Homo sapiens: one gene and its partners. The protein of the gene in region 4 purifies or fractionates together with the protein of the main gene of each other region. This does not show direct contact. Each region holds a gene or a part of one and is shown on either strand. Other genes may lie near its edges. The genes, in order: ATP6AP2, RAB21, CYRIB, SERINC2, CNIH4, MYOF and VKORC1L1.

The links.
Region 1: the proteins of SERINC2 (region 4) and ATP6AP2 purify together in Homo sapiens (affinity purification with mass spectrometry; one large-scale study listed by BioGRID and IntAct). This does not show direct contact.
Region 2: the proteins of SERINC2 (region 4) and RAB21 purify together in Homo sapiens (affinity purification with mass spectrometry; one large-scale study listed by BioGRID and IntAct). This does not show direct contact.
Region 3: the proteins of SERINC2 (region 4) and CYRIB purify together in Homo sapiens (affinity purification with mass spectrometry; one large-scale study listed by BioGRID and IntAct). This does not show direct contact.
Region 5: the proteins of SERINC2 (region 4) and CNIH4 purify together in Homo sapiens (affinity purification with mass spectrometry; one large-scale study listed by BioGRID and IntAct). This does not show direct contact.
Region 6: the proteins of SERINC2 (region 4) and MYOF purify together in Homo sapiens (affinity purification with mass spectrometry; one large-scale study listed by BioGRID and IntAct). This does not show direct contact.
Region 7: the proteins of SERINC2 (region 4) and VKORC1L1 purify together in Homo sapiens (affinity purification with mass spectrometry; one large-scale study listed by BioGRID and IntAct). This does not show direct contact.

What each region holds. Positions count from the first base shown.
Region 1 is NC_000023.11:40,590,581-40,594,939, forward strand, and holds part of ATP6AP2 (renin receptor precursor), read left to right. Parts: intron 1-653; coding exon 654-785; intron 786-4,359. UniProt on the Homo sapiens protein: Multifunctional protein which functions as a renin, prorenin cellular receptor and is involved in the assembly of the lysosomal proton-transporting V-type ATPase (V-ATPase) and the acidification of the endo-lysosomal system.
Region 2 is NC_000012.12:71,764,179-71,768,537, forward strand, and holds part of RAB21 (ras-related protein Rab-21), read left to right. Parts: intron 1-4,359. UniProt on the Homo sapiens protein: The small GTPases Rab are key regulators of intracellular membrane trafficking, from the formation of transport vesicles to their fusion with membranes.
Region 3 is NC_000008.11:129,845,082-129,849,440, reverse strand, and holds part of CYRIB (CYFIP-related Rac1 interactor B), read left to right. Parts: intron 1-71; coding exon 72-198; intron 199-2,566; coding exon 2,567-2,637; intron 2,638-4,359. UniProt on the Homo sapiens protein: Negatively regulates RAC1 signaling and RAC1-driven cytoskeletal remodeling. Regulates chemotaxis, cell migration and epithelial polarization by controlling the polarity, plasticity, duration and extent of protrusions.
Region 4 is NC_000001.11:31,432,248-31,435,589, forward strand, and holds the end of SERINC2 (serine incorporator 2), read left to right. Parts: intron 1-719; coding exon 720-938; intron 939-1,816; coding exon 1,817-1,952; 3' UTR 1,953-2,431; downstream 2,432-3,342. UniProt on the Homo sapiens protein: Non-ATP-dependent, non-specific lipid transporter for phosphatidylserine, phosphatidylcholine, and phosphatidylethanolamine. Functions as a scramblase that flips lipids in both directions across the membrane.
Region 5 is NC_000001.11:224,366,681-224,371,039, forward strand, and holds part of CNIH4 (protein cornichon homolog 4), read left to right. Parts: intron 1-4,359. UniProt on the Homo sapiens protein: Involved in G protein-coupled receptors (GPCRs) trafficking from the endoplasmic reticulum to the cell surface; it promotes the exit of GPCRs from the early secretory pathway, likely through interaction with the COPII machinery.
Region 6 is NC_000010.11:93,377,245-93,381,603, reverse strand, and holds part of MYOF (myoferlin), read left to right. Parts: intron 1-207; coding exon 208-385; intron 386-1,616; coding exon 1,617-1,741; intron 1,742-4,174; coding exon 4,175-4,281; intron 4,282-4,359. UniProt on the Homo sapiens protein: Calcium/phospholipid-binding protein that plays a role in the plasmalemma repair mechanism of endothelial cells that permits rapid resealing of membranes disrupted by mechanical stress. Involved in endocytic recycling.
Region 7 is NC_000007.14:65,875,779-65,880,137, forward strand, and holds part of VKORC1L1 (vitamin K epoxide reductase complex subunit 1-like protein 1), read left to right. Parts: intron 1-43; coding exon of another isoform or gene 44-191; intron 192-4,359. UniProt on the Homo sapiens protein: Involved in vitamin K metabolism. Can reduce inactive vitamin K 2,3-epoxide to active vitamin K, and may contribute to vitamin K-mediated protection against oxidative stress.

The DNA of each region.
Region 1 (4,359 bases), on a different chromosome or scaffold from region 4:
GTTGCTCAGGCTGGTCTTGAACTCCTGGACACAAGGAATCTACCTGCTTCAGCCTCCCAAAGTGCTGAGATGACAGGCGTGAACACCACACCTGACCATCTAGTTCTTTACAACCTTAAACTTGACTACTGATGGCTATTAAAATAACTGAGAAATAATTATTAGTAAACTAATGATAGTTACTTTTAGTAGGAATTGTTTTATTTATAAAGATCTTAGTCTAAAGAGGATGTTTTAATGACCATCTTGCTATGTCTCTGTGAAAGATAAAAGTGATGCTGTATATGAGGGCAAAAAATGATGTGGGGGAAGAAAATTTCCATGGCTACATGAAGAAAATATTTTGTGATCTGAAATTTGAAAGGTACCTATGTTTTGTTTACTTGCTTGCTTTTTTCCACAAAAGGTGTCAGATGACTTACTATTGGACTTTATTTCAAATCTGTAAAATTTTAAGAAAATGAAGAGGGTAGAAATCAGCATTCTTGATTAGGGGATTGCAACGACTGCCACAAATAAAATGTTTACTTTCCCTGTGAATTTTCCTTGTCAGTGTCATCTCAGAACCCCTTAACTCTGCTTATTAGATGTTATTGGGGAGGTGGGTTCCTGAGTTGATAATTAAGCACCGCTTTGTGCTTTTCAATGTTTAGGACCTTTCTTGGCCAGGACTCGCAGTGGGTAACCTGTTTCATCGTCCTCGGGCTACCGTCATGGTGATGGTGAAGGGAGTGAACAAACTGGCTCTACCCCCAGGCAGTGTCATTTCGTACCCTTTGGAGAATGTGAGTATTTATTATAAAAAATTAAAGGGATGCATTTTACATTTTCCCTTGTCAGCTGTCATTATGAATTGCATTCTAAACATACTTCTCTTATCTGTTTTTGATGCACAGTTTCTTTTGAAATTCTTTGACAAACACAATTTCTTTTTAAGAAAATTACATGATGATTGTAATTAACTGAGGCTTGGCTGTTCTCTGTGGATGAGAGTACTGTTTAAGATAAGAGATAGAGAAATTGCCCCACTCAGAATAGCCAGAGGCTTGAAAAAGAGAGCCACTAAAGGAGAAACCAGTTGGGGTTGTATCCTGCTACTGTTTTTTTGGCCATTGTCTTGTCATCTTCCCTGCAGGATTTTACCTCTTTTCGTGTGTAAGGACACTGGAGGCTGCTTGCTGGCTCACTTACTCCTTCACTGGCTATTCAGGCAATGTGGGTGACTGTGCTGATCTAAGAGGCCCTCCTTCCATTATAAGCATATAGAAGTGCTTGAAAGAATGTCACAAAAAACATTTTTACTAGCATAACTAAATTTGAATGCAAGAGGGGGTGATATACACAGGTGTTACATATGGATGGAAAACTCAGAAGCCATAGTGGTGAGCAGAAGCTGACGCTGAAACTGTGTTTCCTGCAGAAAGCCAGGGACTAGAAATGCTGTCAACTTGTTCTTGAAAAGCAGACTAGTAAAACTAGTAAAGCTGGCTTGCTGCCCTTGGCTGTTGGACCCAAAGAGTCCCCTGAGATAAATTAGAATTAGAATTATAGGCTTATGCTGTGCAGAGTGGTTCTTTGCAAATTCACATGACCTGCCCCATAGGGACATCTCCATAGCCAAGGGCTCCTTTGGTCAAATACGGAAGATGAGTGGAATTTACAAAGCACCTGAAGGAAAAAAAATGCCATGAGAAACAGGTGCAACAAACAGAATTCATCTCCTTAGAACTACGGAGAATAGGCCAATTTCCAAGAGATCTAAAAATACATACATTAAAATTGTGAAAAAAAGGGCCAGGCATGGTGGCTCACGCCTGTAATCCCAGCTTTGGGAGGCCAAGATGGGAGGATTGCTTGAGGCCAGGAGTTTGAGACCAGCTTGGTCAACATAGCAAGACCCTATCTCTAGGGGGAAAAAAAAAGAAAGAAAGAGAAAAAATTTGTGAAAAAAAGGAAGGAACAGAAACTATGAGGGAGTTATAAGACATTTTTGATACATGGTGCTTTAGCTGATACTTCAAAATATTTCATAATTTATATTGTGATTCTTTAACCCATGAGTTATGTAGAAGTATTTTTTCCAAATGCATGGGTTTTAAAAAAGTAATTTCTAATTTTTAAATTTCTAAGTTCACTGCATTGTAATACTGTGGTCTATGTGATGCTGAAGTTTTGGGATTTTTTTTTTTTTCAGACTTTCCTGTGGTCGAGTATAGATTATTTCCAAGTACACATGGCATACTTAGAAAAAATTACTGTGCAGTAGTCCACAAGGCAAATCTCAACAAACAATAAAGAATCAGTGTCATATAAACTAACTTCTCTGACCACAATGCAGTTAAATCTGAAAATAATAATAAAATGATATCTTAAAAGGGTATTTGGAGCCCGGCACCATGGCTCACGCCTGTAATCCCAACACTTTGAGAGGCCAAGGCGGGTGAATCACTTGAGGCGAGGAGTCCGAGACCAGCCTGGCCAACATGGCTAAACCCTGTCTCTACTGAAAATACAAAAATTAGCCAGGCGTGGTGGCACGCATCTGTAGTCCCAGCTACTCAGTGGCTGAGGCACGAGAATTACTTGAAACTGGGAGGTGGAGGTTGCAGTGAGCTGGGATTGCGCCACTGCACTCCAGCCTGGGTGACAGAGCGAGACTCCATCTGGGAAAAAAAAAAAGGTATTTGGATCAACATTTCTCCTTTCCCCATCCACCCGTCTCCCCCAGCGTCTTCTAACCATCATTCTACTCTACTTCTATGAGTTCAACTTACAAGTGAGGTCATGTAGTATTTGTCCTTCTATGCCTGGCTTACTTCACTTAACATAATGTCCTCCAGGTTTATCCATGTTGCAAATGACAGTTTCCCGCGCTTTAAAGGCTGTATAGTATTCCATTATGTTTATATACCACATTTTCTTTCTGCTTTTTTCTTTTTTTTTTGAGACAGAATCTTGCTCTGTCGCCCAGGTTGGAGTGCAGTGGCGCAATGTCATCTCACTGCAACTTCTGCCTCCTGGGTTCAAGGGATTCTGGTGTCTCAGCCTCCTGAGTAGCTGGGATTACAGGTGCATGCCACCACGCCCAGCTAATTTTTTGTATTTTTAGTAGAGATGAGGTTTCATCATGTTGGCCAGGCTGGTCTCGAACTCCTGAGCTCAGGTGATCCACCCACCTCAGCCTCCCAGTGGATCTCAGTGCTGGGATTACAGGTGTGAGCCACTGCACCCAGCTGCACATTATCTTTATCCATTCGTTTGATTATGGACACCGAGGTTGCTTCCATCCATATCTTAGAAATTGTAAATAGTGCTGCAGTGAACATGGGAGTGCAGATATCTCTTCAGCATACTGACTTCAATTGCTTTGGATATATATACCCAGAAGTGGGCTTGCTGGATCATGCTTTAGTGATCTATTGCACAAAATGGTGACTATATTAAATAATAATGCATTGTGTATTTCAAAATTGCTAAAGGAGTAGATTTTAGATACTTTTACCACAAAAAAAATATAAGTATGTGAGGTGATGGATTTGTTCATTAGCCTGATTTAATCAGTCTACTTTGTAAACTTATAACAAAACATAACATTGTACCCCATAAATATATACAGTTACTATTTGTCAGTTAAAAATAAAATAAAAAGTATTTGGAAATAGTAACAAACAGAAGATAACAACTCCTCAGATTTAAAGCATATGGAACACCCAGTAGGCAAAAGCCAGATCCACACCTACATACGGTGAAATTGAAGAGTCATCAAGGAAATGGAAAATCTTAAAAGCTGTGAGGGAGAAAAGACACTGTCATTACAAAGGAATGAGAGTAGAAGGAAAGCAAGGAAAATGTAGTGATTGTGTAGTATGAGCTAGGCTGAGTATTATTTGCATTGTCATAATAATGAAATGATGCTGATCAAGTGAAAATTTTGATATAACTATTGGGTAAGAGTGGGGAGATAGAAACAGAAGCAGAGCGCATGGATGGCTCAGCGCATGGATGGGGCAGTGGTTGGTGATGTGAGAGAGCTAAAGCCTCATTTTCTATAATGGATAGTAAATAGACAAGACCTAAAATTGAAAAATCAGGAGATGTAATTTAAGTGTCTTATTTAGAGATGTTAAAAGCAAAAAAAGTCAACAAGAAAAGATAGTTGGAATAGATGCACTCCTAAATAATTCATGGGTTGAGGAGGAAATCACTGTGGAACTTTTTAAATTATTTGGAACTGAGTAACAATGAATGTAGCATTTATTTACAAAATTGGGAGGTGCAGCTAACGTGGTAAGAAAAGGGAAATTTATAGCCTTAAATGCATGTTTTAGACAATTTAGGTTGTCTAAGAATGGAAATTAA
Region 2 (4,359 bases), on a different chromosome or scaffold from region 4:
AATCTCTTGGAAGTACGTGGGAATTGTTTTTAGTATGTGCGTATGAGTGGTGTTCTGGGGAGTGAGTAGGTTCATGGATTTCTTCATATTCTTAAAGAAGTTTATAATTACTTCTCCCCCCTCAGTACCATGTAAGAATTAAGAACCACTGCTCCAGAGTAATTATTATAACTACAGTGGTATCTCAGTAGTCTGGCCAAATTAAATGTGCCTAGTAGAGGTGGTTAAAAAAGAAAAGACAAATTTCAGCCTTTTGATTGTTTGCTGCTATCTTTTTTTATAAATTTTTATTTTTATTTCAATAGTTTTTGGGGTATAGGTGTTTTTTTGCTACATGGATAAGTTCTTTAGTGGTGATTTCTGAGATTTTGGTGCACCTGAGCAGTGTACACCATATTCAATATGTAGTCTTTTATCCCATACCCTCCTCCAAACCTTCCTCCTTGAGTACCCAAATTCCATTATATCATTTCTTACACCTTTGCATCCTCATAGCTTAGCTCTCACTTATAAGTGAGAACGTACAATATTTGGTTTTCCATTCTTGAGCTACTTCACTTAGAATAATGGCCTCCAGCTCCATCCAAGTTGCTGTAAAAGACATTATTTCATTCCTTTTTATGGCTGAGTAGTATTCTATGGCGTATATATACCGCATATTCTTTATTCACTTGTTGGTTGATGGACACTCAGGTTGGCTCCATATCTTTGCAGTTGTGAATTGTGCTGCAGTAAACATGTGTGCATGTGTCTTTTTCATATGACAACTTCTTTTCCTTTGGGTAAATACTCAGTAGTGGGATTGCTGGATCAAATGATAGATCTATAATGCTTTTAGTTCTGTAAGTAATCTCCATACTGTTTTCTTTAGTGGTTGTTCTAGTTTACGTTCCCACCAGCAGTGTAAAAGTGTTCCCGTTTCATCACATCCACACCAACATCTATTGTTATTTTGACTAATTATGGTCATTCTTGTAGGAGTAAGGGGTATGTCATTGTGATTTTAATTTGCATTTCCCTGATAATTAGTCATGTTGAGCATTTCTTCATACGTTTGTTGGCTGTTTGTATATCTTCTTTTGAGAATTGTCTTTTCATGTCCTTTGCCCACTTTTTGATGGGGTTGTTTTTTTCTTGCTGATATGTTTGAGTTCCTTGTAGATTCTGGATATTAGTCTTTTGTTGGATGCTTAGTTTACGAACATTTTCTTCCACTCTGGGTTGTCTGTTTACTCTGCTGAGTATTTATTTTGCTGTGCAGAAGCGTTTCAGTTTAATTAGGTACCATTTATTCATTTTTGTTTTTGTTGCATTTGCTTTTGGGGTGTTAGTCATGAATTCTTTCTCTAAGCCAATGTCTAGAAGAGTTTTTCCAATGTTATCCCCTAGAATTTTTATGGTTTCAGTTCTTAGATTTAAGTCTTTGATCCATCTTGAGTTGATTTTTGTATAAGGTGAGAGATGAGGATCCAATTTCATTCTTCTACATGTGGCTTGCCAGTTTTCCTAGCACCTTTTGTTAAATAGGCTATCTTTTCCCAAATTTCTGTTTTTATATGCTTTGTCGAAGATCAGGTAAGTGTAAGTATTTGGCTTTATTTCTGCGTTCTCTATTGTTCCATTGGTCTACGTGCCTATTTTTATACCTGTTTGTTGCTATCTTGATGTTTCAGCTTTCTTCTTAAATATATTCATAATTTTATTTTTTAAAAAAGTTTTCTAAAGTTTTTTAAAAAGAGTTCTCCCTTGAAGAAAATGTCTATAAAATATTAAAAACTTAGGATTTATATCAAATGAGATGATTTACGAAACAGAATCTTTCCATAGAGCAGGGCTTAAGTTTTTCATTATGAAGGAAAAAAATATTTACTAGGGATCCTTTGATAATATGCTTTACTAGTGCATCATATATATGAGTTAAAATAATTTGATTAAGAAGGAAACTTAGGAGCATATCTCCTACTAAATTGAGTTATACCTGCATTGATTTACCTGGGCATATTGTAGATGTGCTTATCTATAATAACAGTATTTGATTGTCAATTATGGGCAGGGTACTATGACTTCCACCCACTTCTTCCACAAGAGTGGAAGTGTTAGAGAGCTCAGATCTCAGTCTGAGAAGTATCGTAGCATAGTAGTTATAATTAATATCTGGAGCCAAACTGCCTGGGATTTCAAGTGGCACTGTGTCACTTACTGTGTGACCTTGGGCAAGATATTTACCCTCCTTATGCCTCATTTTCCACATCTGTAATACATGGGTAACAATTATCTCTGACTCACAGGGTGTTATTGGCACCTGAGAATTAAGTGAATTAATATTTGAGAAGCTCTTAGAACACTGCCCATTTCATTGTAAGTGCTGTAGAAACGTTAAATAAAAATATGTAGTCTAGTTAACAGAATACTTATACCCATGAAAAGATAATTTATAGTATAAGACAGTATAAGCTGCAGTAAATGCAGAGTTGATTCCCTAAAATTCTTCAGGCTAGAAAAATTTGTGTGCATTGCGTGCATGAGTATAAGAGAACATGAAATTTCAAGGAAAAAGAGCCATATTTGGATAGGTGGAATTCAGATAGAGAACAGAGAATAGGCTCAAATTAGAGTGGAATTTTATGGACAGAAGAATTGAAGAGGATGCAAAAAAGCCATATAAGTTGGAGAATAAGTAAAGAAATATTGGAAGCTGTCCTAAGAAGATAGATGTGGACACGTTGTGGAAGTCTTTGGATATAAAGATAAGGCTTTGAGACTTTTAATTGTAAATGTGGGCTCCCCAACTTTTATAAAGAAGCAGCTTATGAATGATTTTGTGAAAAGTGCATAGCACAGTACTTGGCACAAAATAAACATTTAATAAATGTTAGCTAGTATTAGCAGCAGTAGTAGAAATGACTGTGTAGTGTTTTTACTGCATGGATGGCTATTTTTGTGAATTTTTAACTACTTACCTATTAATGAACACAGATAATTTCATTGTTTTTGTTTTTCTATATAATCAGTGTTGTCATGTGTACCCTTTCCGTACAAGTGTTTTTGTGTATCCATAGTTCCTTAATGGAGACTTAATACCGTCCTTTAAATTTGCCGTGGGAGAGTGGTGGGAAATTTCAGAGGGGATGGTAGAAAAGAAATGAGGCAGCTTTACCAACTCTGATGCACTCCCTTCTTCTGAGAAATCTCCACAACACTCATGACCAAAAGGTTATGATATTAGCTGTCAGCAGGGATGTTCAAGCATACTTATTAAAAATGATAACCTGTTAGGGAACCCTTCGATGAGTTGTAAGTTGTTGTTGTGGGGTTTTTTTTGTTTGTTTTGTTTTTGTTTTTGTTTTAACCAGGGAAGCTTTGGGAAGATAATATGGCATGCAGAGCGGGGTGTAAGGTGAACCAGAGGTATTTATGTTACGATATAATAAGAGACTGGTGGTCATAGACCCCAGAGGAAATGTGAAGACAAGGCTTGGTAGATTTTGGAGGCATATAGACTGACAAGGGCTTAAGAAGATATTTCCAAGTTTCTAAACTTCAATGAGAAGGCGAATGTGATCAAAATACTAAAGTCAGAATGAAAATCCAATTTTGGGGAGAAGATCGGTTCAGTCTTTCTTACATGTGTTTGAAAAAGAGGCACTTAAATTGACCTATCCATTAAATATTCGGATAGGATTCAGATTTTGTTTTTTTTCCATGTGGCATTGATATTGAAACCATGAAAATGATTGAGTTCAAATAAATTACACAGCTAGTATGTGGCAAAGCTGAGATTCAAATCCACAGGTTCTGCTCCAAAGTTCATATTCTTAGCTCCTATGCTAGCATGAATGGGAGAAGACATTTATTGTCATAACATGTATTTGGTCTTCTCATTTTTCAGGTTACTTTGCTGTTTTGGCATTTAATTTTTCTTCTTTTCTGTATAATTTTTATTTTATTTACAAAATATCTTGAGGATAGCTTGGGCCTTGAAGGCAGACATACATGGGTTTGAACCCAGCTCTGCCATTTATATTTATCTGTAGACTCCTTGGTTAATCACTACATCCAGTGGCCTTTTCTTAGTTCTAATTTTCTGTGGTGTGCCCATAGCAAAAAGACCTTCCTGAAATTGAGGTAAAAGAAATCTCAATTGTTTCTTTCCTTCAGTAATTCACCATCCTGACCTTTTATCTGTTTCACCTTCTTTGCACTTTCTTCTATATAAATAACACCTAAATGTGACTATCTCTATACAGGTCTGAACTCAGCTCTCTATTCCTTTTTTTTAAACACGTCAGCTGACTCTGGATTCTGGATATATTTTGTCTTCAGTAACTCTTGATACTCTTCTTTCTTTCCTATCTTCAT
Region 3 (4,359 bases), on a different chromosome or scaffold from region 4:
CTTGTGTGTGTGTGTTTTTAAAAAGAATTTTGTAATGCACTTCTTCCATGCATATCTTATCTACTCTTCAGGGAATACAGAAGCAGATTTACAAATGAAGAGACAGTGTCATTCTGCTTGAGGGTAATGGTGGGTGTCATAATACTCTATGACCACGTACATCCAGTGGGAGCATTTGCTAAAACTTCCAAAATTGATGTAAGTTATTGTTTTATATAAATAATTTCAAACGAGTTTCTCCATGGAAACCATAGGATTTTATTTTATGATAAGAGCCAGCAAACCGGACTCTCACAAAACTCAGATTTATAGTTTGTGAAATGGTGGACTTTCATCTCCTCTGTCCCTGTGCTGTTTTTCTTGTGGCCTGTATTCAGGTGGAATAGAATGATCAAAGGATGACTATATTGTCTAGTGAGTACCTCCTGGAAGGCTTCTACTACGTATTTGGCAATATAAATAGATAATTAGATATAAGGAATTTTGAGTCATATCCTTTAATTCCTTTGGCCAAAGGCCATTTCAAATAAAATGTTTATTTCAGAATGCATATAAAAAGTCAGTAGTGCTGCTGGGCGTGCTGGCTCATGCCTGTAGCCCAAGCACTTTGGCAGGCTGAAGCAGGAGGATCACTTGAGCCCAGGAGTAGAAGACCAGCCTGGGCAGCATAGTGAGACCCCCATTTCTACAAAAAAAAAAAAAAAATTAGCCAGGTGTGGTGGCACACATCGGTAGTCACAGCTACGTTGAGAGGCTGAAGTGGGAGGATCCCTTGAGCCCAGGAGTTCCAGCCTGCAGTGAGCCACGATCACACCACTGCATTCAGTCTGGGTGAGAGAGAGACCCTGTCTTGAAATTAAAAAGACAGCCAGTAGGATGCTCCAGTGGAAAAAGATGAAGACTTTATGTATTTTCCCTCCCCTACCTAGTCATAATAATTTGTGACTATAGTTGGCTCTCGACTTTTCTTCTCTCTGTAAAAGTTTGTATTAGAAATAGTTTTCTAATTTCTCTACTTCGTAGTTTCTTTCCCCAACCTCTCACATCTAGTTCATTAGTGTTTGGTGAGAATTGTCTTCCCGTTTCCCTTTCATAGCTAGTTTAGGCTCTTAGCATTTCGGATCTCGATTACTGATTACTAGCCAAGCTTGTTGCCTTCATGTACACCTGTCATATGTAAAGAGAAATGAGTTAATATTTACTGTATGGTTGCCATGTCCCAGGAATTTTACGTTTGTTCTCCCTTGTGACTCTGAAAATACTCTTTTAGGTGTCATCTCCCTTTACTGACAGGGCAACTAAAGTTTAGCAGATCAAGTAATAGAATTGCTAGTAGGCCGGGTGCAGTGGTTTATGCCTGTAATCCCAGCACTTTGGCAGGCCGAGGCAGGCGGATCACCTAAGGTTAGGAGTTCAAGACCAGCCTGGCCAACATGGTGAAACCTCATCTCTACTGAAAAAAAATACAAAAATTAGCTGGGTGTGGTGGCACACATCTGTAGTCCCAGCTACTCGGGAGGCTGAGGTGGGAGAATCGCTTAAATCCAGGAGGCAGAGGTTGCAGTGAACCAAGATTGCGCCACTACACTCCAGCCTGGGTGACAGAGCGAGACTCCATCTCAAAAATAAAAAGAGTTGCTAGAAAAGGTAGAACCCACATTTCTCTGGCTTCCAAAGCCTGTGTTCTTTCTGCTGTATTATGCTTTTTTATAACAACCAGGCTAATATATCTTAAATACCATCGTCATCAAGTGGTTACCTTTTAAAATAACCTGTGAGTCCCCTGCTGCCAGGCATAACACTTCGTATAACTCATCCTGGCTTTCAGCCTCTCATAACTCCAGGTGCAGTGCTGAAAAATTCCTATCTGTCCTCTGTGTGATACTTTACTCTGTGAGGTTTCTCTACCTGAAAGTTCTTCTTTTCCTTAGTAACATACTCATTCTGTCCTTTATTTTTTATTTTATTTTATTTTTTGTGACGGAGTCTCGCTCTGTCACCCAGGCTGGAGTGCAGTAGTGCGATCTCGGCTCACTGCAAGCTCTGCCTCCTGGGTTCACGCCATTCTCCTGCCTCAGCCTCCCGAGTAGCTGGGACTACAGGCGCCCACCACCACGCCTGGCTAATTTTTTTGTATTTTTAGTAGAGACGGGGTTTTACCGTGTTAGGCAGGATGGTCTCGAACTCCTGACCTTGTGATCCGCCCGCCTCAGCCTCCCAAAGTGTTGGAATTACAGGCCTGAGCCACCCTGCCCAGCCCATTCTGTCCTTTAAATCGCCACTCAGCACCTTTTCCAGAAGTCTTCCCTTAGCAAACCGTTTGTTTTTCATTGCATGTGTGGTATATTAGTTTGACTGATTTTGTTCTCAAAAAGATTTTGTTTTCACTAAGTGAGAATAATAACTCTTAGGTTGGGTTTTTTTCTGTTCTAAGAATAATTAATTTGACATAGTATGTAATCTCTTGAGTTCCATAGTTATGGTCTTGATTTATTTTACTATTTTGAAAAGGAATGTTACATGAAAAAAATGGCTGTTTTACCTTTTCTGTTTTCTTTTTCTTTAGATGAAAGGTTGTATCAAAGTTCTTAAGGACCAACCTCCTAATAGTGTGGAAGGTCTTCTAAATGCTCTCAGGTGTGTATATGTACGTGTACGTATGTACAGAAAAAATCTGTAAGGAAAATGGTCGATGTTTATGTAAAGAAAATGCATTAAGTGTGAATAGGATATAAAAATAAGTGTTCAAGCTAGAAATATGAAGATCTTATTTTGTTTATTGATAATCTTGCTTCCAAACACTGGTTACGGTATTTTATGATGAGGAATGTGTGGGACACATGACAATAGCAGCTTCATTTTCTGGTTGAAGATTTTGGCTTTTACTTGTTGCTTCTCTTCAAACAGAGATTGCTTGTTTTTGTAATAAAAGTATTATATACCAGTTATAAATAAAATTCAGAAAACATAAGAAAATGTAAATAAAAAGAAATAATGTAATCTCACCATTTTGAGATAAGCCACTATTAGCATATAGCCTTCCAGAGTTTTTTCTTTACATATATAGATAATAGCTCTATGTAGTAGTTATCTTTTTACAAAATAATATCTTACAAAGTGGCTTGTAACTAGCTCTTTCCTCTTAATAGAATGTAATTACATTTGTGCTCAGACTTGTGTTCTGTTATTTTTATGTATTTCCTACAATAAAAATTAAGTAGTCATTATTTAATGTCTTTTCTTAGATTAGTTTTACTTAATTTAGTTGCTCAAACTTCTACAAATGCTAGAACATTATTTCGTTATTTAGAGTTGGAATCTCGCTCTGTCACCCAGGCTAGAGTACAGTGGCACAATCTTGGCTTATTGGAACCTCGGCCTCCCAGGTTCAAGTGCTTCTCCTGCCTCAGCCTCCCGAGTAGCTGGGATCACAGGCATGTGCCTGTATTTTGTATTTTTAGTAAAGACAGCGTTTCACCATGTTGGCCAGGCTGGTCTCAAACTCCTGACCTCAAGTGATCCACCCACCTTGGCCTCCCAGAGTGCTGAGATTACAGCATGAGCCACTGTGCCCAGCTGCTAGAACATTTTTAAATGAAAATCTCGATACTTTATAACATTTGACTACAGAGATTTAATTGGTAGTATTCACATGACATAAAAGATGATGTCCCATTACTTGATTTTTTGAGGGTTTAAACACAAAAATTACATGAACACAGAAATATTTATATAATGATATTTACCACATAAAATGTAGGCTGTATCATTTCAGCTAAGCGGAACTGTCAAATGATTTTATTAAGATTATGAAAAAATGTTTAAAAATAGTTTTTAAAAGATTATGAAAAGTGTTGCATAAGCGGTAGCTGCCTGAATAAAGGTGATCTATTCTAAATGAACATCAGCAAGATTAAGGAACATAATTTAAAATCCTTATAATGTCAAACTATTTTAACCATAAGCCTAGTTTTTAGAATTCTGTATTCTTGGGGTTTTTACAACGCATACTTCAGTGGTTTTGCCAATATTTAATGATATCATGAGTCTTTCCTCCTTGGTTTCTTTCTGAATACTCCCTGTGTCTCAGTCAACCTGATTTTTCTCCCAAGACTTTGTCTTTCTGATTGGTCAGGCTCTTTGAAGCCAGCAAGTGGCAGGAAATCTTTTTTAAAAACTTGAAGGTAATTGAGATCTAGGAGGTTTTAGGATTCTTTCTTGAGCTTGAAGGTAGTATGCCTAACTCAGAATCTACGTTTCACTTTAAGGGTAGTTCAGTTTCCTTTTCCTTAGAATGAAAGCAGAGGAGACCAGTGATGGCGAGTGAAAGACAGGGTTGAAGTCTCCCACAAAGTAATC
Region 4 (3,342 bases):
GCAAGGGGTGATTTCTCAATTTGCTGGGGTGGCGGGGCTGGAATCCAGCTCTCCTTTTCACTTTTGTTTGGAAACGTGAGTTGGTTTTTCAAAAATTTTTATGTCTCAAACTATCAAATTCTGTTAAAAACATCAAGGCTCATCACAGAAAAGCATGACATACAATCATTACTGTTGTTCTTTTTTTAGTGTAAGCATGAAGGAAAGGGAGGCCATTGGTAAAACCACCTGACACTAATAAAATGGAAACTTAAAATCAATGGCAAATGAGCGTGATTAATTATTAACATTCTTAATGGATGTAGTACCTGGTATGGTACTTTGTAGTATTAGGTACTCGATACGTGTTTATGGAAATGGCAAAGGAACAATCCTAACAATAGTGACTGTTGATTGAATTTATATTCTGTGCCAAGCACTATGCTAGAGACCTTACATCATTATTCCGTCTAGTCCCCCCAGCAGCCCTCTAGAGGAGGTACGATTATCCCTTATTTTACAGACAAGGAATCAGAGGCTCAGAGAGGTTAAGTGTTTTGCTCAAGGTCACACAGAAAATGGGAGTGGGGGTAGGGGTAGAGTTGAGAGGCAAAGCAGTTTGTTAACTCCCAGGCCCAGTAACCGGGTCGCTGGCCTCTGAGGCTCTGGGACCATTTGTGTCCAGTGTTATGAGCAACGCCAGAGCTATCTATTTGCCCACCTTCCTCCCTCCCCTGCAGTCTGCGCTCCTCAGACCACCGGCAGGTGAACAGCCTGATGCAGACCGAGGAGTGCCCACCTATGCTAGACGCCACACAGCAGCAGCAGCAGGTGGCAGCCTGTGAGGGCCGGGCCTTTGACAACGAGCAGGACGGCGTCACCTACAGCTACTCCTTCTTCCACTTCTGCCTGGTGCTGGCCTCACTGCACGTCATGATGACGCTCACCAACTGGTACAAGTGCGTAGCTGGTGGGGCATGGACAGAGCCCGGAGGTGCAGGGTGCAGGTCCACACATCTCTCCTGCGGCCCTTCACTGGGTTTTCCTGATGTCTGCTTAAGGCTTGGGGGTGGCGGTGTGTATCAAGGACCCTCCATAGAGCCTGCCCCTTCCCTGCTACAGTTTCCCCAACAGTGCCTTCATCTGCTCAGCTCCCGCACCTTCACTAGGAGACTGAACCGGGGAAGGCACAGCAGCTGGGGCTGGACCTGTACAGGGCAGGCGGGGTTTACAAATCAGGGGTCATGGGGTCAGATTTGGGCTTCATGGTTGGAGGGTTAGGATCAGGGTGTGGAGTGCAGAACCAAAGTTACAAGGTCAAGGATAGAAGTCATGAGGTCTGGGGCTGGGATTGTGGTCATTTAGTGTCACAAATTTGGTCATTTGGTTAAAGTTAAAATTGAGAGTAGGAGGTCATAAAGCCAGGATTGAAGTGGCAAGGTCAAGGAGCTAAATGACAGTAATAAGGTCAGGGGCCACCCCTAAGTTACAGGATCAAAGGTCAGAATCAAGGGTAGCGGTCAGGACTAAGGTCAGGAGCTCCAGGGTCCCAAGTTCAGAGGCTAGGATTGAGGTCCCAGAATTAGGATCACAAGGTTGGAGACCAGGAGTCAGGTCATGATCTCATGGACTAACACTGGGCTCAAGATGGGAATCGAGGTCAGGAGCTATGTCCACGGTCACAAGGCCGGGTGTTAAAAATGTCAGAGATGGACTGGAGTTACAGGGTAAGAGCCAGAGTTGAAGTCAGGGGTCATAACTGGGACATAAGGCCAGGGGCCAAGATGGAAGTCACCAGACTGGGCACCAGGCTCATGGGGAAGATGGTGTGTTCCAGGCCCGGTGAGACCCGGAAGATGATCAGCACGTGGACCGCCGTGTGGGTGAAGATCTGTGCCAGCTGGGCAGGGCTGCTCCTCTACCTGTGGACCCTGGTAGCCCCACTCCTCCTGCGCAACCGCGACTTCAGCTGAGGCAGCCTCACAGCCTGCCATCTGGTGCCTCCTGCCACCTGGTGCCTCTCGGCTCAGTGACAGCCAACCTGCCCCCTCCCCACACCAATCAGCCAGGCTGAGCCCCCACCCCTGCCCCAGCTCCAGGACCTGCCCCTGAGCCGGGCCTTCTAGTCGTAGTGCCTTCAGGGTCCGAGGAGCATCAGGCTCCTGCAGAGCCCCATCCCCCCGCCACACCCACACGGTGGAGCTGCCTCTTCCTTCCCCTCCTCCCTGTTGCCCATACTCAGCATCTCGGATGAAAGGGCTCCCTTGTCCTCAGGCTCCACGGGAGCGGGGCTGCTGGAGAGAGCGGGGAACTCCCACCACAGTGGGGCATCCGGCACTGAAGCCCTGGTGTTCCTGGTCACGTCCCCCAGGGGACCCTGCCCACTTCCTGGACTTCGTGCCTTACTGAGTCTCTAAGACTTTTTCTAATAAACAAGCCAGTGCGTGTACCATGTTCTGTGCCCCTCACCCTCAGCACGGAGCCCCACTGCATGGGGGCCGGTGTGGGGTTTGGGAATAGAATGTTAGGGCTGAGGAGGCTGGGACATCAGGGCCAGACCAGGAGGAGCCTCAAAGGCAGACAGAATGGCCTGAGTTCTGTCTTCTGGGTCATGGAGCGCCTGAGGGGAGGGGGCCAATGAGGAAGGAGGGGCAGACCAGGGTTTTGGGAAAGTAGGGTGTGTCTGGTGGTCAGAAAAGGAGACCCTAGAGGCAGTGGGGCCAGCAGGAGGCTGCCCGACCATCCAACCATCCGAGGGAGGGCAGTGAAAGAGAGTCACGGTGGGGAGGAGGGGGCGATGACAGGGCCAGAAGGTGGTCTTCAGGTCCCCTCTCATCAGGGCCTGCCTCAAGGTCCTGCCCACCTCTGACCTGCCTGGAATTGTTACCACCGTTGGTACCTGCCCTGACCAGTCAAGCCCCAGGCCTCGGGGTGCTGTGGGGAGGAGCATGTGCTCTTGAGTCAGCCAGGCTGGCCCAGATCCCTCCGTACCACGGCAGCCGCGGGGCTGCTGTCCGGCTCCGGATGGGTCCTTCTCTTCTCTGGGCCCTGGTTCCTCATTCATTCAATGGGAACAATGCCACCCCTCCTAGGCTGTTGTGAGGATCAGAGGAAGCAGCCCATGCAATCTGCCTGGCACAGCGAGTTCTTGAGAAATAACATCAGCCCCCATCTCACAAGGGCAGAGAGATGTGAGGGAGACTGACAGGCTCCTGGCTAGGGCCCCAAGGCCTGGTCTTGTTACGATGATGGACTGCAGGCCATTCATCCCTTCCATTTGTGGGGATAAAAAATAGGTATGAAGGTGCTGGGGATGGGTGCTGGGGACACAGCCTGTCTCTAAGGCTCTCCTGGGTTCTGGGG
Region 5 (4,359 bases), about 190 Mb from region 4:
GGGTACAGTGGCTCACGCCTGTAATCCCAGCACTTTGGGAGGCTGAGGTGGGTGGATCACTTGAGGTCAGGAGATCGAGACCATCCTGGCTAACACGGTGAAACCCCATCTCTACTAAAAATAAAAAAAAAAATTAGCCAGGCATGGTGGCGTGCACCTGTAGTCCCAGCTACTTGGGAGGCTGAGGTGGGAGAATGGCGTGAAGCCGGGAGGCGGAGCTTGAAGTGAGCTGAGGTCACGCCACTGCAACCAGCCTGGGCGACAGAGCGAGACTCCGTCTCAAGAAAAAAAAAAAAAAAGCTGCAAATTAGGTAACTAATCAAAATTTTTTATTTAATAAATTTAGGAAGTTTGTTCAAAATGAGCTCAATGGAAACCCTGAAGTATATAATTTTATAGTTGGGTTATTAGACATAGCATACTTTCTTGTGAAGACCGCTGGGATAATCTTGACAAGCCTGTAATTGTTATATTAGTGGGTTGCTGCTCTACTACATTTTTAGGTTTTATTTCATTTTTATTTATGTCTAGTTTTTTGGGACAGGACCATTCATTGGCTGTTTTTTAAGTATGATGTTGTAAAGTGCAGTTAGAATAAAAAGAACAGAAAAAAATAAAGTAGGGTTTGGAGGAAGATGGGATGCACATGAAAAGATAATGGCAGCAGTAGAGGTGAGGGAAGGAGTGGATATGGGGGAATGATTTTATAAAGGTCATGAAACTAGAATCTGAGTGAGGGAAAAGCTTTAAAATATCTGTGTCTCTTTTCTAGAGGGTGGGTACCCTGGGGTCGAATTTTTTGTTTTCTTTTTCATTTTTTAATATACTGAACATGGGTTCTGAATTTTTTTTTTTTTTTTAAGAGATGAAGTCTTGCTGTGTTGCTCAGGCTGGAATGCAATGGCTATTCACAGGTGTGATATAGTGCACTACAGCCTTGAACTCCTGGGCTGAAGCGATCTTCCCACCTCAGCCTCCTGGGCAGTTGGGACTGCAGGTGCACACCACCGCACCTGGCCTCTTTCAAGCTTAGTAGTACTCTCCCATGATCAGTTCCATAGACCAACGCCCTAAAGTGAGCTCTGAGCTGGGAACACAGATTACTTGCACTTCTGCTGCGGGCTAGTCCCAGACAGACTTTTAGCACAGCTAAGTCTACCTGTAGTTTCACTTAAGTGAAACACAACTTTGGGAGTGAGAATGGGGACTCGAATCTTTGAGAATGAGGATCTTAATGTTATACCAGACCATACTGTCAGTCATCTCTACTAGAAATGAAAACCTGCTAGAAGAGCCAGCTTTGGCATGGCTTCTTTGTAGATAGTGGTAAAAGGTTCTATGAAGTCAAGTCCAAAGATTCTTTTTTTAGGCCGGGCGTGGTGGCCCATGCCTATAATCCCAGCACTTTAAGAGGCTGAGGTGGGTGGATTACCTGAGGTCAGGAGTTCGAGACCAGCCCTGGCTAACGTGGAGAAACTGCATCTCTACTAAAAATACAAAAATTAGCTGGGCGTGGTGGCATGCGCTTGTAGTCCCAGCTACTTGGGAGGCTGAGGCAGGAGAATCACTTGAATCTGGGAGGCGGAGGTTGCAGTGAGCCGAGATTGCACCACTGCACTCCAGCCGGGAAACAGAGCGAGACCCAGCCTCAAAAAAACAAACAGAAACACTGGAGATTCTTTTTTAAATATAATTATAAAATAAAGACAAAGATCATGTATATTTATTGCCCTGGTAACTGCAGTGACAGGTTGGCTGTCTGCTGGTCACAAGTTTACCTTCTATTTAAAAAGGTTTAAAAAATCAACAGATAGATTATTTGCTATTTTCAGACCACTATACTTTATGCTGTTGGAGATGAAGTACAGTAGTCCACAGGACAAAGAGGCAAAATACCTAGGAGTGGAATCACTGAGTCATATAGTAACTCTATATTTAACCTTTTGAGGGACTGCCTGAGTGTTTTCAGAAGCAGCTGCACTTTTTTTTTTTTCGAGATAGAGTCTCACTCTGTTGCCTAGGTTGGAGTGCAGTGGCGTGATGTTTGCTTACTACAGCCTCGACCTCCTGGGCTCAAGCGATCCTCCCACCTCAGCCACCCAACGTGTTGGGATTACAGGTGTGAGCCAGTGTGCCCAGCCACAGCTGCACTATTTGACATTCCCATCAACTGTGTATTGGGGGTTCCATTTTCTCTACATCCTTGCCAACACTTTTTACTGTGTGTGTCTTTTTTTTTTTTTTGATATCAAAAAAATACCAAAAACTGTCTTTGATATTTTTTTCCTGCCCTAGTAGTATACAGCTGTAGAGTTCCCCTGCCTGTTATAAGCATTAATATATGTGCCTCAGCGACCATCCCACTCATGGTCTTTGGGGAATCATACCACAGCTCTCAGCTACTTTTATCCAAATTGTGCTGATCTTTCTTGGCAATAAGTAATTTAGGTGTGATGCTCATTCTCCAGTATGCTGAATGGTCTATTATGGTAAAGTTGTATCAGTCTTCTAGTTATAACGCACTGGAAGTAAGAATTAATATGAAAGATTGGCTGTCAGACACTGGAAGCCTTATATAGTCCTGTTTTAAATTATTCCTGTGTGTTTTAGAGATGAGCGCAGTGGCTCACTTCTGTAATCCCAGCACTTTGGGAGGCCGAGGTGGGAGGATCACCTGAGGTCAGGAGTTCAGGACCATCTTGGCCAACACGGGGAGACCCCATCTCTACTAAAAATACAAAAATTAGCTGGGCATGGTGGTGTTGGGCACCTGTAATCCCAGCTACTCCGCAGCCTGAGGCAGGAGAATTGCTTGAATCCAGGAGGAGGAGGTTGCGCTGAGCCGAGATCTTGCCACTACACTCCAGCCTGGGCAACAGAGCGAGATTACGTCTAAAAATAATAATAATAATAAACTAAAAAAGTATAACTGGATCGTTTGTAACACAAAGGATAAATGCTTGAGGTAATGGATACCCCGTTTACCCTGATGTGATTTTTTTTTTTTTTTTTTGAGACGGAGGTTTGCTCTTGTTGCCCAGGCTGGAGTGTGATACCGCAATCTTGGCTCATTGCAACCTCCGTCTCCCGGGTCCAAGCGATTCTCCTGCCTCAGCCTCCTGAGTAGGTGGGATTACAGGCATGCGCCACCACGCCTGGCTAATTTTGTATTTTTAGTAGCAATGGGATTTCTCCATGTTGGTCAGGTTGGTCTTGAACTCAACCTCAGGCAATCCTCCCGCCTCGGCCTCCTGGAGTGCTGGGATTACAGGTGTGAGCCACTGTGCCCAGCCTTACCCTGATGGGATTAGTACACATTGCATGCCTGTATCAAAATCTCTCATATAACCCATAAATATATATACCTACTGTGTACCCACAAAAATTAAAAATAAAACAAAAATACAAAAAGGAAAAAAAAGACAGCTAAGTAAGTGGTGGTAGGAAGAAAGACTGGACAAGGGTTTGATGGACTGGCTATGAAAGATGAGGAAGAGAGAAGTCCCAGTTGGGTAAGAGGAAGTTTTTAAGGACCACCAAGAAAATGGTGACACTCTTATTAGATAACCTAGAAATTAGACAAGGATGAGATGTTATCTGGATATTCAAATGAAAATACCCTCTATTCAGCTATAGTCGGGCTACTGGGGTTTTAAGGGAGAATTTCAGATTTGTGGAACTCAGAGAGTCCTTTGCATTTCAAAGAAGTGATAATTGAGAAGCTGTGTGACAACTAAGGTTGTACTAGAAGAAGCTTAGACGTGAGAGCAGGAAGAATTCATGGACAGTGCTAGGTTAGGACATATATGTTACACAGATGACACAGTCTGGATGTTGAAGCCCAGACACTTAAATTCATTGATCCTCTCAAAGTAACCTAACTTCCTTAATTTCCCTGTTTCCATAATGAAGTTTCTAAGAACTTAATAAAATTGGTTTGGGTTTGAAGCCTTCTTTAACCTTTGTCTAATGGAAAAGGGCTGTAGATGTGACTGGTATGGTAGTTTTCTACAGATGAGTAAAAGGGTTTCAGTGCATAAAATATCCTTTTCTGGAATGTTACTGTATTTATTTTACAGGGCAGAAGATTAACAGTATTATAACTTTCAAAAGGAAACTAAGTGGCAGCCCATGACATTATCATACTACTCTGTACATATGTGGTATGAATTTAAGGCTGCTATGATTGGCTCACTTTTTTTTTTTTTTTTTTTGAGATGGAGTTCTGCTCTGTCACCCAGGCTGGGGCTCAATGGCACGATCTTGGTTCACTGCAACCTCTGCCTTCCGGGTTCAGGTGATTATCCTGCCTCAGCTTCTCGAGTAGCTGGAATTCCAGTTGCCTGCCACCATGCCCAG
Region 6 (4,359 bases), on a different chromosome or scaffold from region 4:
TCAATCAATGCTGCCAGGAACATCCTAGTGCTTCTATCTTTGCTCACTTGTATGAGTGCAAGAGGAACAGCTGGGTCCAAGAACATTCTCCCCTGTCATTTAATTCAGCACTAATTATTAGGTGTAGAATTGCGTCTCCTAGAAATCCACATGTAAATAAGAACAAATGGCCTTTCACTGAACCTTATGTCTGCTCATACTTTATAGAAATACCAGCGAAGGCGGAAGTACAGCCTGTCTGCCGTGTTTCATTCAGCCACCATGTTGCAAGATGTTGGTGAGGCCATTCAGTTTGAAGTCAGCATTGGGAACTATGGCAACAAGTTTGACACCACCTGTAAGCCTTTGGCATCAACAACTCAGTACAGCCGTGCTGTATTTGATGGTAAGATTGGCACTAACAGTTCTCTCCACACGTTTACAATGGGTGCACCACGGGACCGGAAGCAAGCACTGTGTCTTCCCTCTGGCACTGTTCTACGCAGCCTATGGTTAGTGGAAAGGAAAAGGTTGAATGAGGAAGAGAGTGTGGTTGGGGTTCAGGCACCTTAAAGACTGGCCAGACCCAAGAAGTTGCAGGTCCCATTGCCAGAGGCTGAACCCCAATGCTACCCTCTCCCCACCCAGCTTTAACAATGGTTTTGCCATGTAAGACCCCAAGGTAGCCACTGTGCTAAGTTCTGAGCTCCGCAAAGCAGCTCCTACCCCTACGAAGCCCCAAATCTTTCTTAGGCTGAGTAGTGGAAAATGAATGGGACTCTGGATCAGCTACTGGGAAATCATGCTTCTGGTCTTCACTCTGTTACTCACCAGCTTGTGACCTTAACCGTGTCACTGAATTCTAACCCTCAGTTTCTTCGTCTTCTCTGGAGTTGACATGAGGATTAAATAGCTGTATTTGAACAAAGATGGGTGAGAAACAGTCCCTGATTTTAAGGAGCTTACATTCTAGTGTATAAAATAAATCATAATAGAAAGCAAAGTATGAGAACTTCCAATAAAACTGTCAACAAATGGTTTGAGAGTACAGAGAAGGGAGAGAGGAATACTGATCAAATTTCCCAACAGTATTGCCAGAGTTTTAACTTAATTTTTGTACAAGCAGTTTTAAAATGTAAGACATCCTAGGAAACATCAGCTAATAATTCTTAATCACAGTAAGGCTCTAGTACCAAACCCTATGTAGCCAGCTAAAGCTTTCCAAGAACAGAAAATTCTTTTCTTTTGCCCCAGTTCCAACAAAAACATTTATTTAGAATAACAGTTTTTAGGGACTAACATGTTCAGTCTAGCTTCCTATGTCATCTGTATTTTCTACTACCACGTTAAGAAACCATCTTTGATGTTCAGATGCATGGCCCTGAATCACTAAACGATCCTGAGATTGCTGTGCTCAGTTTACTAGGGTGTCTCAGAGAAAATTTCAGAACAGCCTGAATGAAAAAGAGCTTCCTAGTCTTCAGTTGCTTAATTGAGTCAAATTAAAGAACCAGACCACCTCAAGCTATTCCCCAAGCCTGTGGATTAATCAGCAGCTCAGTCTGCACATCTCTTTAATAAACATGCTGTCTATTTTAAGTGTTCAGTGTTCATTGACCCCCAATGTTTTATACCAGGCAACTACTATTATTACTTGCCTTGGGCCCACACCAAGCCAGTTGTTACCCTGACTTCATACTGGGAGGATATTAGTCATCGCCTGGATGCGGTGAACACTCTCCTAGCTATGGCAGAACGGCTGGTAAGTTTCTCTTTTTCTGCATTTCCTTTTCACCAAGCAGGGTGAATTAGGTATTAGGATGGAGGCCAGGCCACTATAACACAAGAAAGTGCTTAGTACAGTGATCAATAAGGTAAGAGCAATGTCTCTAGGAACAGTGGAGGTAGATGGTCCTAAGTTAGTATGGAGGTTCAGTGGTATTGGAGACCCAGGCTCTTACCCCCGGTTGCTCTGCCATCACTCAGGAGTTATCATTGTCTGCATGGTAGAGGCAGCTCACTACTACATCTGCCCTCCAGCCTGAGGGGAGGGCTGGTAAACAGTGGGGAGAAGATGACATAGGCCTTTCTCTTGAAGGGAAGGATGCAGAAGTCATACTCTTAATTTCTACTCACTTTCCACTGGCCAGAATCCAGTCATACAGCCACATGTGACTCCAACGAAGGTGGAAAATGTTAGTCTTATGCCTGGGCAGGCATATGCCCAGATAAAAATTTTCTTACTTTGGAAGAGGGGAGGATTAAAAAGGTAGGAGTGGGGTGGAACAGGAACTCATAGTTTCTGCCGTAATTTTTGTGTAGAGAGAATGGTTCATTCCAATAGCAATATGAAACTCTGAGAACTTTGCAGTGGAAATCTCCACTGCAGGAAGAGGTAGCTTTGAGGAACCAGTGTCTGACACATTCCACTCTTGCTGCAGACTAGAGGAACTTCTTTTGTTTGGAGGTTGGGGATTTCCTTGGGTGAAAACTGCATACATATGATATCTGTGATTATCTGTCTAGTTGACATTGGTCAACTAGATTGGTGAGGAGAAGGGGGATATGTCTGTGATATTTCTAATTAAGCAAAAATACTAAGTTACTTGGGCCAGGTGCAGTGGCTCACGCCAGTAATCCCAGCACTTTGGGATACCAAGGTGGGCAGATCATTTGAGATCAGGAGTTAGAGACCAGCCTGGCCAGCATGGTGAAACCCTGTCTCTACTAAAAATACAAAAGAAATTACCTGGGCATGGTGATGTGAGCCTATAATCCCAGCTACTAGGGTGGCTGAGACAGGAGAATCACTTGAACCCGGGAGACGGAGGTTGCAGTGAGCCAAGATGGCGCCATTGCACTCCAGCCTGGACAAATTGAGACTCTGTCTAAAAAGATAAATATATACATATATATATATATATATATATACACACACACACATACACACACACATATACACATATACTAAGTTACTCCTATCAGGTAGTGCTAAAATCCATCTGGCATTGGTGTTTTGATTTCAACATTATGTTAATATTAATTTTTTAAAGATCTAATCTCTACCAGGGCTGGACCAAAACATATGGGGTTTCAGGAGTATACTTGATCTAAAACTCGACGGCAAAATCTGAAATATCATTTTATGTTATAAAGGCAATCTGGGAGGATAACTATAGGTTTAAATTGACTTAATCATAACTGTCCTGAAAATAAAGTTGCAATTGATAGGCAATGTACATCTCAAAGGCATTTGTGGAGAATTAGTTGCACCTGTGTTCTAATTGTGTTTGAGATGCTCTTCAGCAATTTTCATCCTGGTTCTTCTTATCAGCTCTCTCCACTGACCAGGCTGCCTAATCTGGACAGGATGGTGGCTTTCCCTTTTCCCTGATTAGGACTTTTGACAGTCATGGTAGGCTCTTCCTCAACTTCTCTGTTGGCAGGTGCTCAATGGAATAGAACCATATGTTTTGAGCTTATCTTGTACTTTCTCTGCCCCAGTCCGTAAATCGCTATTTCTCCAAGCAGCTTTTTCCTTTGAGTGGGGAATAGCATTTTAGAAACAAAATCTGGGTATACAGTGCTCACTACTACTGAAATATCATTGCTTCTAGGCCTTCTCAGCAAACGAATTTGCACAGACACATGTATGTCTATTTATTTCTATATCTATCAATATATTAAAAGCTATGACTTCATAAAGATACTTCCAATTCCAGTCCAATACCACAAGGTTTATCCTAGTCCTCTGTATTTCTATGTCTCTAACTTTCTTCTCCAACAGTGAGAAATCTGGCCTTTGTTATCCTCAATATATTTACTCCTTGGTTCAATCCTAAAATCTGTAGATAAACCACTGTGAAAAATAAGCCTACTAATTAGAGTTCAATATGTTTATGGGTTTTTTTTTTCTGCCTTTTAACAAAGTGTACATAGTCAAAATACTGTGTTCCAAAAGTTACTTGGGTTAGTTTAGTGTAATTATGTTATTCATCTGAAATGTAATTAGATCTGTTTTATTTCTGGTTATATTCCACTTTAGGGTTCCCTCTCCTATCTTTGCTGGTTTCATTTTATTTGTTTTTTGAATATACAAAAATATTTACATGATTTCACAGGTTAAACTATATGAAAAGGTATAATGGCATAATGAACAATTATCAATTATTTCCTCTCTTTTCAAATTCTTCAGCAAACAAATATAGAAGCTCTAAAATCAGGGATACAAGGTAAAATTCCTGCAAACCAGCTGGCTGAATTGTGGCTGAAGCTGATAGATGAAGTTATAGAAGACACGAGGTACAGTGATCTTACGCCTATCTCAGAATTTTCATCCAGGCGCTCCTCCCTGAAATTCTAAGACTGTAAATCCTGTGG
Region 7 (4,359 bases), on a different chromosome or scaffold from region 4:
GATTGCCATGTAGCAGTAGTACTCAAATATGTGACTCTTTTAGGAAAAGAAAGTTTGAGCCCAGAGGAAAGTTAACAGACAAAGATTCTGAAGAAAATCATCTTCCAGGATCCAGAGTCAGCACGTGGTTTTGGATTGCTCAAACTCACTTTATTCTCATTTCGCAAGCCCTGTGTCTTAATCCAAACACGGTAAGGTAGAGATTAATGAGAGAATCTTGAGAGGCAGGTGTTATCTGTGTGTAAAGTCCTCTATTATTTTGGGGAGGCATAATGATGGAAAGTTCCAGATTTTATATTTCTAAAGAAATATTTCACCGAAATTAGTAGGCTACAATAGAAATGCTGATTTTTCAATTCTACCATGTACAGCCAGTAAAAACAATAACACACCACTATCTCCTGTCACCATCATTTCATTTAACAAAAGGATATTTCCATTCAAACAATTTGAAAGAACAGAATCTCTCAGAATAAAATATTTTTAAATGGAATCATTTAGCTATATGGAAAAGTTTACTTTCAGACCAGCCTGGCCAACATGCTGAAACCCCGTCTCTACTAAAAATACAAAACAAGCTGGGCGTGGTAGCATGCACCTGTAATCCCAGCTACTCGGGAGGCTGAGGCAGGAGAATCACTTGAACCTGGGATGCAGAGGTTGCAGTAAGCCAAGATCGCGCCATTGCACTCCAGCCTGTGTGACAGAACGAGACTCTGTCTTTAAAAAAAAAAAAAAAAAGTTTACTTTCGTGTCCTTACTTTTTCCCATTTTCCCATAAATCGGTGAAAACTCTGCTGCAAACCTGCACCAGCCTGCCAGCTAACATTCAGTTAGCAGTCCCTGCCCCCTTGGTTTGGTACACTGAGCTCAAATCTAAGGGATCTGGGTGGGCTTCCACCTCTCCCAGTTCTTAGGCTTGTGGCCTTATCTTCATGGTGCCTCAGTTTCTTATGTTAAATAGGGCTTTTAACACCTACTTAGGGCCTGGTGCAGTGGCTCACACCTGTAATCCCAGCAGTTTGGGACGCTGACACCTGGCAGACCTCTTGAGCTCAGGAGTTTCAGACCAGCCTGGGCAACAGGGCAAAACCGTGTCTTTACAAAAAATACAAACGTTAACCGGGCATGGTGGCGCATGCCTGTATTTCCAGCTTCTTGGGAGGCTGAGGTGTGAGGATCACTTGAGCCTGAGAGGCTGAGGTCTGCAGTGAGCCATGATGGTGCCACTGCACTCCAGCCTGGGTGGTAGAGAGAGACCCTGTCTCAAAAAAAGAAAAACAAAAAAACCTACTTTGCCAGATTAGTGTTACGATGAAAAGTGATACATGTATGTTCCTGAAATAAAGCCTGTCCTCAGTTATAGCTGTTACCATTGATTGGAGATGTTCTTTTTTTTCCAGTGTTTGATAATAAATGCCTTTAAGTATAAGTTTCTTGTACATACTTGTTTATATGTTTAAACATTAATTGTTTTAATGTAGTTTATTGCTGACTTTATAGCATAGTATAAAGATGTGTTCATTTAAAACAATTTTGAAGTTGTGCAAGAGAAACTAATGCAGAATATTCTTTTTTTTTTTTTTGATGGAGTCTCGCTGCTCTGTCACCCGGACTGGAGTGCAGTGGCATGATCTCAGCTCACTGCAACCTCCACCTCCCGGGTTCAAGCGATTCTCCTACCTCAGCCTCCCAAGGAGCTGGGATTACAGGTGCCCACCACCATGCCCGGCTAATTTTTGTATTTTTAGTAGAGACAGGGTCTTGCCATGTTGGCCAGGCTGGTCTTAAACTCCTGACCTCAGGTGATCTGCCTGCCTCAGCCTCCGAAAGTGCTGAGATTATAGGCATCAGCCACCGTGTCCAGCTGTAATATGCAGAATATTCTATGTAGGTATTTTCTATATATAAGACCCCCTCTAAGAAGGGTTTCTATGTAAGAATAGTACAAATGATCTGGAAAGGTTAATAGGCTTGACAAATCTATGTTTCTTAAAACTGTAAAAATAGTCTGGTTGTCCTATGGTCTATGTATAGAACATATACCATAGGGGATTGGTTTCAGGACCCCTGTTTTTACTGAGATCCTGGCATACTCAAGTCCCCACTGTGGGCCCTGCAGAACCTGAATGTGAAAATTTGGGCCTCCATATATGCAGGTTTCGGTCTGCATTTGGTTGAAAAAGATCCACGTATAAGTGAGCACACACAGCTTAAACCCGTGTTGTTCAAGGGTCCACTGCATTTGAAAATCAAGTCCATAAAAAAGTTGCCTTATTTTACAAAATGTCGGATTACTACCTCTCCCATATCTTAAAAAAAAAGTACCATCTATTTACTACCCCATTGAGATAATAAAACTTTTAGAATTAGAATAGAACCTAGGGCTGGGCATAGTGGTTCACGCCTGTAATCCCAGCACTTTGGGAGGCTGAGGTGGGTGGATCACCTGAGTTCAGGAGTTTGAGACCAGCCTGGCCAATATGGTGAAACCCCTTGTCTACTAAAAATACAAAAAATTAGCCGGGCATGGTGGTGGGCACCTGTAATTCCAGCTACTCGGGAGGCTGAGGCAGGAGAATCACTTGAACCCGGGAGGTGGAGGTAGCAGTAAGCCGAGATTGTGCCACTGCCCTCCTGCCTGGGCAATAAGAGGGAAACTCTGTCTTACAAAAAAAAAAAAGAACCTAGAAGTATTTACTGCTCTTTGCTTTGTCTGAGACTCAGAGGTTAAGTGACTTGCCCAAGATAGCACAGGTAGTAGCAAATTGAGACTTGACACCTGGCTTCCAGAGTACTTATTTAAAGTCCCCTTTGCACCCCCATTTTAAAAATTAAATTCTTGGCTGGACGCAGTGGCTCACGCCTGTAATCTCAGCACTTTGGGAGGCCGAGGTGGGCGGATCACGAGGTCGGGAGATCAAGACCATCCTGGCTAACATGGTGAAACCCCGTCTCTACTAAAAATACAAAAAAAATTAGCCAGACATGGTGGCACACGCCTGTAGTCCCAGCTACTTGAGAGGGGCTGAGGCAGGAGAATCACTTGAACCCGGGAGGTGGAGGTTGTGGTGAGCTGAGGTCGTGCCACTGCACTCCAGACTGGGTGACAGAGTGAGACTCTGTCTCAAAAAAAAAGAAAAATTAAATTCTTGTCTAGGTAAGGCATTCGCTGCTTCGGATTTGAAAGATAACAAAGCATGTACAGTGAAAAGTCTCCTTCATATCCCTTCCACCAGACAGTTCTCCCGCTCAGTAGACCGCTGTGAAACTTTTCAGAGCCGTTTGACACATAGACAAACATCCACGTGACCATATGATTCCTCCCTTTTTTTAACATGGAAGTATCACGTATGCATCCTTATTGATAGCCTGCTTTTTGCTTGGCATTCGTTCCATTGCTCCCATACTTTAAATGCTTATGTTCATATTTAGTGAAATGTTAATAACTGCTAGTACGTAAAAGAGAATTTGTTCTAGTAGTTTTGACTAACCAAGATAAATTTCAGAAATAAAATTCTTAACATTATCATTGTTTCTTGGTATGGAAATTTCAGAAGCAGGTTGAACTGAAAAGAGTCCAAGAGGAATAGAGAAATATCACAAGGAAGTGAATCTGGACTGTAGTAGAGATAAATGTTAATACTTACAGATAATGCTTACTATGTGCTAGGCAGTGTTCTAAATGTTTTGCATACATTATTGAAGTCTCTCAAGAGTCCCATGAGGCAGGTAGCTTTTATCACCATTTTACACATGAGAAAACTGAGCAACGCAGACTAACACTTGATCCAGGTAGTACAGTGGCAGAGGCCTGATTCTAACCCAGGCAGTCTGGCTCAAGAGTCCAAGCTCTTTACCACTACTCTTTCGTCTTCCTTTCTTCCTTTCCCTCCCACCCTCCTTCTTCCTTTCCTTTCTTTTCTCTCTTTCTTTTCCTTCCTTCTTTTCTTTCTTTTTCCTTCCTTCCTTCCTTTTCTTTATTTTTCCTTCTTCCTTCCTCCTTCGTTCCTTGCTTCCTTCTTTCCTTTTCTTTTTCTTTCCTTTCCTTTTTTTTTCTTTCCTTTCTTTTCTTTCTTCTTTAACTTTTTGAGACATTGTCTCACTCTGTCTCCCCAGGCTGAGTGCAGTGGTGCAGTCATGGCTCACTGCAGCCTCAACCTCCCTGGGTCAAGTGATCCTCCAACCTCAGCTTCCTGAGTAGCTGGGTCTACAGTTGCACACCCCACCATGCCTAGCTAATTTTTTCTATTTTTCATAGTGACGAGGTCTCACTTTGTTGCCTGAGTTGGTCTCAAACTCCTGGCCTCAAGCAGTCTTCCCACTTGGCCTCCCAAAGTGCTGAGATTACAGGTGTGA